Linked DNA regions of Homo sapiens: all the other regions are linked to region 3. Evidence: fine-mapped expression QTL. A gene starts in region 3. Each other region holds a variant in brackets. All regions are shown on one strand. Distances are between the middles of the regions.

Evidence for each region. PIP is the estimated chance that this variant, and not a neighbour inherited with it, causes the effect. A credible set is the group of variants that fine-mapping cannot tell apart.
Region 1: its variant is the best candidate, but not a certain one, in a credible set for the expression of TMBIM1 in visceral fat (GTEx, PIP 0.54).
Region 2: its variant is the best candidate, but not a certain one, in a credible set for the expression of TMBIM1 in whole blood (TOPMed, PIP 0.89).

What each region holds. Positions count from the first base shown.
Region 1 is chr2:218,247,944-218,252,065 of GRCh38, forward strand. It overlaps ARPC2 (actin related protein 2/3 complex subunit 2), which reads left to right. Exons shown (of 11, transcript NM_152862.3): 9 at 1,421-1,521; 10 at 1,878-1,978. Among named protein-coding and RNA genes, the nearest start is that of TRY-ATA1-1, 4.2 kb to the left of the region's middle. The variant C/T (reference allele first, on the strand shown) is at 2,442.
Region 2 is chr2:218,313,404-218,317,525 of GRCh38, forward strand. All of the region lies in intron 2 of PNKD (PNKD metallo-beta-lactamase domain containing), which reads left to right. The region is part of intron 1 of LOC105373881 (a long non-coding RNA gene); the gene reads right to left. LOC105373880 (a long non-coding RNA gene) reads left to right here and starts at 3,347. Exons shown (of 2, transcript XR_923909.3): 1 at 3,347-3,480. The variant G/A (reference allele first, on the strand shown) is at 1,800.
Region 3 is chr2:218,290,113-218,294,234 of GRCh38, forward strand. It overlaps TMBIM1 (transmembrane BAX inhibitor motif containing 1), which reads right to left and starts at 2,391. Exons shown (of 12, transcript NM_022152.6): 1 at 2,354-2,391. The region is part of intron 2 of PNKD (PNKD metallo-beta-lactamase domain containing); the gene reads left to right. RefSeq lists enhancers at 1-39, 959-1,923, 1,924-2,886, 3,069-3,915 and a silencer at 2,169-2,648.

The DNA.
Region 1 (4,122 bases), 42 kb before region 3:
AAAAAAATTAAAAAAAAAAAAAAGAAACAGGGTTTCCATGTTGGCCAGGCTGATCTCAACTCCTGGCCTCAAGCAATCCACTCACTTCAGCCTCCCAAAGTGCTGGGATTACAGGCGTGTGCCACTGCGCCCAGCCAGCTATACCATTTTTTTCAAGTTTTTGTCTTTGAAGCTGGGATGCATCTTACAATTCATAGCATGTCACACTTTAATTGGCAGCATGTTTCTCTTGTGGTACATAAAATTATGGCAGACTTACAGTCATAAGCACCTTAGATTCTTTGAAGTATAGTTGTCTTCTGTTGTGGTGTTCATTTACTTTCAGGCCAGGGCACATTGACACAGAAATTCCACACTTCCTTAGGAGGCATTCCTTTTCATTTCAACGAAAACTTCAGACAACTGACGGGGTTTTGCAGATAGTGAGTAGAGGAGGTGCAGCAGGTAAAAACGATTCCAGAAAACCAGGGCAAGAGGGGCATGCAGGCCTGCTGTAGTGCAAAGGACTTTGTGATGAGCACACAGGTCTTTTTTTGAGATGGAGTCTTGCTCTGTCACTCAGGCTGGAGTGCAGTGGCACCGTCTTGGCTCACTGCAACCTCCACCCCCCGGGTTTAAGCGATTCTCCTGCCTCAGCCTCCTAAGTAGCTGAGATTACAGGCACACGCCATCACATGTGGCTAATTTTTATATTTTTAGTAGAGATGGGGTTTCACCATGTTGGCCAGGCTGGTCTCAAAACTCCTGATCTCAGATGATCAGCCTGCGTCAGCCTCCCAAAGTGCTGGGATTACAGGCGTGAGCCATCGCGCCCAGCCTCACACAGGTCTTTAGGTGGCTGGTGTCACAGGGTGGACTTCAGTCAGGCCCATTCAGAGCAGCTCCTCCTGCCTGGCCTATCATGAGGGTTCAGGTCCTTACACCTTATTGTCTGTTTTCACAGTGAGAATATGGGAAATTCTCTGGCATCTGTTTTCTGGGAAGGTTTACTCTATTTCAGCACCAAGGACCTAAGACAGGCAGCTGCATTTCCTAATCCTGATTCCTTAAAGTAAACTGTTACAGCCAGTTAGTGTGATCCTGGAGTGTGTCCAGCTGCAGAGGCAAGAGCTAGTACCTGTGTGGCAGACCGGAAATAGATTTCAAAATGCACAGCTGCAGAATTCAGGAGTAGAATGAAGGCCTAGGGTCAAGCCCTGTTTTTCATCGTGGGCTCCTCCATTCACGCTCGTTGACACCTTTCCTGGCCATGCTGTTTAACTTCCATGTCAAGAAAAAACCCTGACAAAGCCTGGTAATACTGACACAAGTGGAGTGTACTTAAGCAGAGAGGGAGTGATGTTCACTAGGCTGTTGTTCTTCCCCACCCTTTGGCATTTGTGTCGTGTCCTGACGCCTTGTTTGTGTCTTCCGCCTTCAGTGCTGTTCCCTCGTCACACCAATGCCAGTGCTCGAGACAACACCATCAACCTGATCCACACGTTCCGGGACTACCTGCACTACCACATCAAGTGCTCTAAGGTGAGGGGGGTGCCAGCATCTCAGCCTCTATGCTCTGGGTCTTTTCCTCCACCAGAACTCCTGACAGAAAGTCATTCCATTAGTCTACGCTGTGGATATTGACTCTTAGGTAAATAATTCTAGAGGCTTCAAGAAACCATGGTCTTTCTTCATCAAGCCACTGTCCCCCATCCCTCCCTATAGCAGAGATGAATATTTGTTTCCAGAATTGCTCACCTTCCTGCTTCCCTGCAGGGCCTGGGTCAATCCCAGGGTGTATGTTCCCAACCGCCCTTGATGACCTCTCTGATGAAAGACAGCAAAGCTGTCTTTCTAGACCATGACTGTGCTTTAGTACCTGTTATGTTTGTTCCCAGGCCTATATTCACACACGTATGCGGGCGAAAACGTCTGACTTCCTCAAGGTGCTGAACCGCGCACGCCCAGATGCCGAGAAAAAAGAAATGAAAACAATCACGTAAGTTAGGCAGCACCCCAGCGACCACCTTCCTCTCCTGAGTCACCGAGAAGGAAGCAGTGGGCGCTGGTGGCCTGGTCCTCCATGTATCTGGGCACTGGCTACATATGAGGTCAGCAGGGCTAAGTAGATAAACCAAAGGTGGGATTCCATGTTCTCACTGCCATATAGGCCAGGATGGGTTTCCTTGTTTCCGTATCTTTGTGAGCTATGAGAATGGCAGCTAGGAAATAAACAAAGTTTACCAAGAGACTGTTCTTTTTGGGCCTGAGTTATGAGGTCAGTCTTGTGCTTTTGGTGGTCTTTCTGGAGAGATGGAGTAAGTTGCTTAGGGACCTTTAATTGGGTAAATAGGCCTGAAACCACCCCACTAAGTGTTCTTTTTCCTGGTCCACTCTCAGCAGGAAGTTTGCATGCAGAGGAAGGTTCTCTTTATCAGGGATAGAATTGAGGAGAGCCGTGA[C/T]GGGCGCTGTGGCTCACGCCTGTAATCCCAGCACTTTGGGAGGCTGAGATGGGTGGATCACAGGGTCAGGAGTTCAGGACCAGCCTGGCCAAGACGGTGAAACCCCATCTTTACTAAAAATACAAAAAAAATTAGCCGGTCGTGGTGGCAGGTGCCTGTAGTCCCGGCTACTCGGGAGGCTGAGGCAGAGAATTGCTTGAGCCCAGGAGGCAGAGGTCGCAGTGAGCCAAGATTGTGCCACTGCACTCCAGCCTGAGCGACAGAGTAAGACTTAGTCTCAAAAAAAAAAAAAAAAATTTGAGGAGAGCCCTAAATAGGGGTGTGGCTCTGCATGCAGGAAAGGCGAGCATGGCCTAGAGCCTAGAGAGTTCCATCTTTGTGAAAGGTGCCAGACCTTGGTTCTTCTGATGAAATTCAGGCAGTCCTGTCCTTAAGATAAGGTAATAGTGTTCATTTGCTGGTTTTTGTTTGTTTGTTTGTTTTTTGGTGGGGGTGTTGGGGGAGACAGAGTCTCACTCTGTCGCCCAGGCTGGAGTGCAGTGGCGCGATCTCAGCTCACTGCAGCCTCTGCCTCCCAACTAGCTGGGACTGCAGGTGCACACCACCACGCCCGGCTAATTTTTTGTATTTTAGTAGAGATGGGGTTTCACCATGTTGCCCAGGCTGGTCTAGAACTCGTGAGCTCAGGCAGTCCACCCACCTCGGCCTCCCATCTGCTGTCTTTTGTACCAGTTGAACTAAAAGTCTTGAGGTCATAAGCCTCCCTCACAGCCAGTGTTATTTGCCAGCACCCCAGTACTGTTGTTGTTTTGTTTTGTTGTTTTGTTTTTGTTTTTTGTTTTTTGATACAGAGTTTCGCTCTTGAAGCACAGGCTGGAGTGCAGAGGCACAATCTTAGTTCACTACGACCTCTGCCTCCTGGGTTCAAGCAATTCTCTTGCCTCAGCCTCCCAAGTAGCTGGGACTACAGGCGTGCGCCACTAAGCCCCACTAATTTATTTGTATTTTTAATAGAGACAGGGTTTCACCATATTGGCCAGGCTGGTCTTGAACTGCTGACCTCGTGATCCACCTACCTCAGCTTCCCAAAGTGTTGGGATTAAGGAGTGAGCCACCGCGCCCAGCCCAGTACTCTGTGATCCCCAGCCAGGCTCAACCTCCTGGGCTCAAGCAATCCTCCCATCTCAGCCCCCCAAGTAGCTGGGACCACAGGCATGCACCATCACAGCTGGCTAATTTTTGTATTTTTGTAGAGACGGGATTTCACCATGTTGTCCAGGCTGGTCTCGAACTCCTGGACTCAAGTGATCCTCCCACCTCAGCCTCCCAAAGTGTTGGGATAACAGACATGAGCCACCACACCTGGCCCAGCACTCAGTACTCTTGAGGCAAAGTTTTAGTGGGTGTGGTACGCCTAGGGCTTTACACTCTCTCTCTTGCATTTGAGGGCTCTTCTACCAAGTTAGTTTCTGCTGTCATTTGAAAGGATGAGAAAGAGATCAAGGACTTGAGCAGTAGGTGAGGGTTTTCAGACATTGTCAAAAAGCAGTTTAAGGCCAGGTGCGGTGGCTCACGCTTGTAATCCCAGCACTTTGGGAGGCCGAGGCAGGCGGATCACCTGAGGTCAGGAGTTGGAGACCTCCAGCCTGACCAACATGGAGAAACCCCATCTCTACTAAAA
Region 2 (4,122 bases), 23 kb after region 3:
CCCAGCCTTGATACAATTCTAATAACCTACCTATAGTCTTTATTGATGTTGACAGTTGTTCCCCAGTGTCTTTTTTTCTAGTCCAGGATCCAATTCAGGATCACGTACTGCATTGATTTCTAATTTAAATACCATTTAAAAGGAACACTGAGTTCCACAGAACCTAACTTTTGTTGCAAGATCTCTAGGTTGTTTGTAGAGTTTCATCATTACCAGTAACCCTGGGCCTTCAAATTTTTAATATATTTCAGAGTTTATCTTTTGGGCTGATCCCTAAAACAGAATTACTAAGTAAACAGATATGAACATTTTTAAGGCCTTGATGCATATTGGTAATTGCTTTCCAGAAAATTATACAAATTTGATGTCCCTACAAACCATGTATGAATACTCAACTTCCCATATTCTTAGAACTTCAGGATTTTATTCTTGTTTTTAATATTGGCATTTTGGTTAAGTGAAAATCAAATCTCGTTGTTTAACTGCATTTTCTTTATTTCTTTTTTTTTTTTTTTTTTTTTGAGACGGAGTTTCACTCTTGTTGCTGGAGTTTCGCTCTTGAGGCTGGAGTGCAGTGGCGCAATCTCAGCTCACCACAACCTCCGCCTCCCAGGTTCAAGCGATTCTTCTACCTCAGCCTCCTGAGTTGCTGGGATTACAGGCATGTGCCACCACACCCGGCTAATTTTTTGTATTTTTAGTAGAGACAGGGTTTCTCCATGTTGGTCAGGCTGGTCTCAAACTCCCAGCCTCAGGTGATCTGCCTGCCTCTGCCTCCCAAATTGCTGGGATTACAGGCGTGAGCCACCGCGCCCTGGCTTTTTTTTTTTTTTTTTTTTTGAGACAGAGTCTCTGTCTCCCAGGCTGGAGTGCAGTGACATGATCACAGTTTACTGCAGCCTTTACCTCCCAGGCCCAAGAGATCCTCCTACCTCAGCCTCCTGAGCAGCTGGAAGCACAGGCGTGTACCACCAAGCCTGGCTGATTTTTTAAATTTTTTGTAGAGATGAGGTCTCCCTCTGTTGCCCAGGCTGGTCTGGAACTCCTGGGCTCAAGCGATCCTCCCACCTTGGCCTCCCAAAGTGCTGGGATTACTTGTACTTTGGGTGCAAGTTAGCCACCATGCCTGGCTATACTTGGATTTTCTTGATTCTTTTGAGTTTTCACATTTTTTCATATTTATTAGCCATTTATTAATTTATTAATTGAGGTCATTGTGTTTTCACATTTATTTAAGGTCTGTAATCACTCCTTGGCCTTTTGGCTAAGATCAAGTATATTTAAGTTCGTTTTTTTTTTTCTTTTTGAGAGAGTCTCACTCTGTCGCCCAGGCTGGAGTGCAATGGGGCGATCTCGGCTTACTGGAACCTCCACCTCCTGGGTTCAAGCGATTTCTTGTGCCTCAGTGCCCAAGTAGCTAGGATTACAGACGCCTGCCACCATGCCCTGCTAATTTTTGTATTTTTAGCAGAGACTTGGTTTCACCACTTTGGACAGGCTGGCCTTGAACTCCTGGCCTCAAGTGATCCACCTGCTTCAGTCTCCCGAAGTGCTGGGATGCCAGGCATGAGCCACTATGCCCGCCTGAGGTTTTCTTTCTTTCTTTCTTTTTCTTTCTTTCTTTCTTTCTTTCTTTTTCTTTCTTTCTTTCTTTCTTCCTTCCTTCCTTCCTTTCTTTCTCTCTCTCTCTCTCCTTCCTTCCTTCCTTCCTTCCTTCCTTTCTTTCTTTCTTTCTTTCTTTCTTCTTTCTTTCTTTTTTGAGACAGTCTTGCTGTGTCACCAGGCTGGAGTGCAGTGGC[G/A]TGATCTCAGCTCACTGTGACCTCTGCCTCCCAGGTTCAAGCTATTCTCCTGCCCCAGCCTCCCAAGTAGCTGGGACTACAGGCACGCGCCACCACGCCCAGCTAATTTTTGTATTTTTAGTAGAGACGGGGTTTCACCATGTTGGCCAGGATGGTCTCAATCTCTTTGACCTCGTCATCCACCCACCTCGGCCTCCACCCGCCTCGGCCTCCCAAAGTGCTGGGATTCCAGGCATGAGCCATGGCGCCCGGCCAAGGATTTAAATTTTAAAGTAACTAAAACAGTAATTATTTCCCTTGTTAGATCTTCTGTTGCTTTTTTCTGAATAATGTATGCCTTTAAGGAATAATAGGAATAATAAATGCCTTTAAGAATAACATACGCCTATTAAGGAAAATTAGAATGACGCATTTGTTATTTTTAGCTTTAGAAAATCCTCTGCTATCCAGATTGAACATGTCTTTCATTTTCTTCTAATTTTCTGTGGTTTAATTTTATATCCTTAACCCTTTAATTCGGGTAGAATTTATTTTGGTGGATTCTGTGAGGCACGAGTCTAAATTGCTCTTTTGTAAATAGCTAGTCACTCATCCATCATGTCTTTCCAGCATCATTAATATTCTGTTTCCCTCTGTCACTGTTAACTATTATTGCAGTAATGCTGCATAAGAAGCCAGTTCAAAACTCAGAAGCCTACAATCATAAGCATGTATCTTGCTCATGCATCTGTGGGCAGGCTGAGCTTTAGCTGATCTAGCTTGGGCTCTGCTGGGCTGGGTTGACTTCCAAGCTGTGAGTGGGATCCAGGTGGCTCCATGTGCCTTTCATCTCCCTTAGACCAGCAACATCAGTGGCGTGGGAAAATATACCTCGCCTCCATTGAAGTGATGCACAGTCACAGGGTGAACGGTATGTTTACAGTGAGAGATGAATAACTGGAAACTGAAATGCCATCTACCACACCTTTGGAGACAGCCTTTCAGGAAACTAGATTGTGTTGAGATAAAGGCAGAATGGAGTCTAGAAAATGGCACAAGGTCAAGGGAAGATTTTTTTCTTTCTTTCTTTTTTTTTTTTTTTTTTTGAGACAGAGTCTCACTCTGTCACCCAGGCTGGAGTGCAGTGGCACGATCTCAGCTCACTGCAACCTCCACCTCCCAGGTTCAAGTGATTATCCTGCCTCAGCTTCCCAAGTAGCTGGGATTACAGGCACCCGCCACCATATCCAGCTAATTTTTTGTATTTTTAGTAGAGACAGGGTTTCACCTTGTTGCCCAGGCTGGTTTCGAACTCCTGAGCTCAGGCAATCCGCCTGCCTTGGCCTCCCAAAGTGCTGGGATTACAGGCGTGAGCCACTGTGCCCGGCCAGGAAGTTTTTAAGGCAGGGAGATGCTGGAATTTGCTCTTAGGCTGAGGAAAATTGCAAAATATGTAGAGGGGTAGGTAGTCACAGAAATTGTTTTCTCTAAGAAGGATATTTGTTGAAAGTAAAGGAAATGACGTTGGGGCTTGAGGTTTGGAATAACAACTGCAGATGAGATGGGGCCTCAGCAAAACGGAACTGCCAAGCACTGGTATCAGGGACTTGGGATGGCCTGAACCATCGCAGCCCTGAGTCATATGACACAGCAGTTTTCTTCAGCCCTGCCCGTGAGGTAGGAGACTGTCAGGTTGGTTCAGGTAGGTCTGAAGGTTGGTAGGTTAAGGCTGGAGGTCAAGGGGGTCAGGGGATCAGGAAGCTAACAGGTGGTAAGTAGTTCAAGGGATTGAGCCTAAGTTCAAATATAGGTGCAAGAGGGGCTGAAGGGCTGGAAGAAAACAAACTGCCTGAGGAGCTGGAACTGGAGGTCCATGTGTACTGGGGATGGGAGGGGATCAGGGAAAAGGACATTGGAATTTAGGTTCTCAGAGGCAGAGAAGTTCCAGGTGAATCTAGGGTGTGGCCATGTGAGCAAGCTGCTGAATTATGTCGAAGGCATTGGAATTGAAGTCAGGAACTGAGGTCAAGGCAGAGTTCAGAACCACCTATGCGAAATGCACACTCTTGGGCCCCAGCCAAACCTACTAAGTTTGAATCTCTGGGGGACGGACCAGAATTCCGTATTTTTACAAGCTCCCTGAGTGGTTCCTAGGCTCCCTAACACTTGAAAACTGCTGTGCTATGATGTTGAATGAGCCATGCTTGTTGGAATTACCTGATGGCAGGAATCAGGCAGGAAGACTAAAAACAGGTGTTGAAATCCTTAGAGAGTCTGGGCTGATCAGTGTATGGGACTGATGAGGAGGGGTGGAAAGAAGTTTGTACATGAGTCAGGAAGAGCA
Region 3 (4,122 bases):
CCCAGACTGTTCTAAAGAACACGCCCCAGGAGACGTTAATGAATGAGTGCTGGAAACAGATGACTCTTGAGAAACAATCCACACCCCCTTCTTGGAAATTCACAATGGCATATTCTGCCCCTGAGAAGTCCTGCAGTAAGCAACCCTGTTCAGCTTTGTTTAACCCAGTGTTCCTTCAAACTCCCTTAAGCCTGAGCCACTTTTATCGAGGCAAACCTATTAACACCCTGTGGGATGCTGACCCAGGCCACCTTTGTATTACAGACACCCAACCCTGAGAATCATTCATATCCTAACTCCTCGTCTCTTATAACCTCTGTGCGTACACCCAGCTGCCCCTCAGAGCAGTCACATGAAGTACTAGACATGCCCTCTCACTCTCAGGGGGTCAGCCCAGTGCCAGGATCTCTGGCGAGGGTCCTCCCCTTCCCCCATTCCACACAGCTGCTATCCCACCGTGGGATTTACTGCCAAGGGCCGGGGGACATATCCAGCTACCACAGAACCAGGAAACGGGCACCCCTAACCTCACCTCTGTGCAACGGGGCAAAGCACAAATCATTACAGACAAAAGTGGGAGCTCATTAATATCTCCCTTCCCACCAATGGAGGTACCTGCCACTGTAGCCTGTCGACTTCTGGATATCATTTCTACTTCAAAACAAGACCCAGGTTTTGGCCTAGAATCCCAGAATCTTAGGGTTGGAAGATTCTGTCAAGGTCATCCCTTCCACTGTGTCCCCAACAGAATAGGTCCAGAAGGCCCATGTCATGATCAGACATGTTGTTAGCAGAACTTCTTCCCAGAGAATTGTATGAGCTTCCACTCTCTGGTCGTCCCAGTTCAGCCCTCTGAAAACACACAAGTATGTGTGTTTCCCTTCTCTGTGGCTTCTGCTTTTTCTGAAAGGCCCAGGGTGAGGCCTGCGGTTGGAGGTGCTCTGAGGTAGACAGCGTCTGGCTGAGGCACCCATTCCCAGGGGAGGAGGCTGAGCCCAGGTGGCTATTACCCCAGCTCATGACATGAGGCTCTCCCAACACTTACAGGATAACCCATCATTACCTCTCTGAAGGGCTCATTTTTACAAGTGAGGCCTTGAGGTCATAGCACAGAAAGACAGGGCCCCTGACACTGTGGTCCTGCCTCTTCCATTTAAGCTATAAACTGGTTCTCTGGATCCTCATGACTGGAGAGACAGAGAGAGGAGGCAGGTGAGAAGGAAGTATGGCTCCCCCTTTGCGCCAATAAAGCAGCCCCAGGAGGCACCTGGCTCCCCTGCCACCACTGGCCAGCCCAAAGTCGCCAGCTTGGAAACCAAAGCTCACTAATGAGATGAATATTTCAGAGCCCAGAGAACTGGACACCTGAGGGCCCTTCCATGACATCTGGCTCTGACCTGCGTTCCCAGGCCTACTTATCCCATGTCCAGGGTGCTCAGGTAGAACCCCAAACTCCTGGGTACCACGTAGAGGCCACAGAGGAGGGAGAGGAGATGGAGACCCCATAGGACAAGAATTGGTGCCGACCCCACAAGGCCAGGGCCTGGCCTCCCAGCAGCCTCCCTCTGCTTCCTCCCACTGGTCCCTGGCTCCTGCCCCAGTCTCTCCACTTGCTTTCCCTTTTCCCGTTTCTCTGTTTTGTTTTCACTCTAACCCAAAGAAGTCACGAGGAGGATGTTACTCCCCTGTAGTTCTGTGAACCCAGCCGGGAAACAGTGGCTGGAAGTGGGACTGGCAGAGGGCAAAGTCATGGTGATAGAGGTGGCCACTTCCCCATGCCAAACACTTGAGCTGCTCATTGGCTTCTGCCCCAGCTGCAAGCTAGGACCCCCCCTTCCCCACCCCTTAAATATTCACCTGTCTACACCGAGACTGGCCTCAGCGCGTGTGGGGGCAACCTGGGGTCCGTGCCAGGCCCTGGCTGTCTCCCCTCCCTCTTCCCTCTTCTCACCAGCTGAGGGCCATGAAAGCCCTCATCCCACACAGCTGGCCACTCGGGCTGGCATGGTGGATAGGCCCTGCGACAGAGAGGCCACTCGTGCCCGAAAGAGGGAACACGAGGACACCCCCAGACCCTGGCTCCGCTCACCAGTGCCCACAACACGCTGCTGGGCTCCCAAGGCTAACCAGGTGCCACAGACCCGGCCGCCCACCCGCGCGCCCAGGGAGAGCGAAACGCCAAGGGCCAGGAGGGGAGATCCCCATCTGGAACGGGCTCCTTGGGCCCAGGAGCGGGCAAGCCGGGAGCGCGCTCCGAAAAGTTTAGGCGCCCCGGCGCATGGCCGCCCCAGCCCTGGACCAGTCCCCACCGCCCACAGTCCCCAACGGCGCCGGCCCCGGCCCCCTGGCTTGCCTGCGCCGTTCCAGACGGAGCGTTCCTGGCCTCGGAGTGTTGCAAGTCCTCCGGGGCCGGGCAGGGCTAGGCTCGGCTGGGGCTCCGCGCCCCGCCCCGTCGCGCCGGCCTCGTGGGGCGGGGCCTCAGGGCGCCGCCAGGGGGCGCAGGGGTCTGTCCCGGGCGCGCGCGCCTCTCAGAGCCCCGACGACGCCTCACTAATAACACAGGGGTATTTTCGGATTTAAAGGCAATACATGATACTGATAGGAAGCTAGAAAAGACACAGAAATGCAGGGAAGAAAGTAATTTCTCTCCACCCCTCCTAGTTCCCAGGGGGAAGCGTTCGCTTTGGGTCCTTCTTTGGCTATTACATTTCTGTATGTATTTTGTTTTTCTACAGTGGGGTATATTGTATGGTGTTTTGTTTACTGCCCTTCTTTTTACTGTTTTATGATGAACATTTTTCTTCTCACTAAATAGTCTTCAAAAGCACAATCTTAATGCCGTGAAGTATTCCATTGCATGGCTATGCGGATTAAATTAATTTCCTACTGGAGGCCGTTTGTTTCCCATTTTTACATTACAAATAAATCAGTAATTAAAATCCTTGATAATTCTGTGTTTTTGAGATAAATGCACTTTTCGAGTTTAAAACTGCAAACATGCAAACCTAGAATCTCTGTTTATAATTACTCAACCAGGAAAGCAGGTGCTTTCCTCAAGTCAGAATTCAGAAGTCCTACATTGAGATGTAGATTACTACTGTTAGGTAGGTCTTAACCCTCATCTCAGTGAAGAATGCAGTAGCAAAGGAGGAAACAGTTTTGAGGAAGTTCTGAAATATTACTGGAGCCTGGGCATGGTGACTCACACCTGCGATCCTAGCACTTTTGGGAGGCCAAGGCCAGAGGATGGCTTGAGCCCAGGAGTTGGAGACCCAGCCTAGGCAACATAGAGAGACCTTGTCTCAATTTAAAAAGAGAAACATTACCGAGCCTTGCCTGAGTTTCTGTGGTTCCAAAGTCCAAGTTCTTTCCATGACACCAAGGCTGCCAGTAGTTGACCAACTCTGTTTAAAGTGCTTATCTCATGTTAATAGCTATAGGTCAGCACCACACCACCACTGAATGTCCTTTTTTTTTTTTTTTTTTTTTTCCAGACAGGGTCTCGCTCTGTCACCCAGGCTGGAGTGCAGTGGCGCCATCTCGGCTCACTGCATCCTCCTCCTGGTTTCAAGTGATTCTCCGGCCTCAGCCTCCTGAGTAGCTGGGATTACAAGTGTGTGCCACTACACCCAGCTAATTTTGTTTGTTTGCTTGTTTGTTTTGTTTGGTTTGTTTGTTTTGTAGAGATGGGTTTTCACGTTGTTGCATAGGCTGGTCTCAAACCCCTGAGCTCAAAGCAGTCAGCCCACTTTGGCCTCCCAAAGTGCTAGGATTACAGACATGAGCCACCACGTCCAGCCCCAAAACAGAGATTTAAAAAAAAAAAAAAAAAAAAAAGACAGATTTTTAAAAACTGCCCCCCATACACACACTATGTATGTTTATTTCTGTAAATATAGTTTAAGTAGGAGTTACTTAGGGGGACTAGTGGCCGTTATGGTGGGCTAGCTCCCCAGACACCCCAACCCTTCAGTGTACTTCCAGTTCCTACAGGCCAAGAACCTCATTTTAGGAAGTCCCCACCCAAGGTGTGATCTCACCAGAGCAAGTACAGTTCTGCTCAGTGTCTGTCTCCCCCTTGCTCAAGGAGTAGCGCCCTAGGTGAAATGCATGGCCCATGGA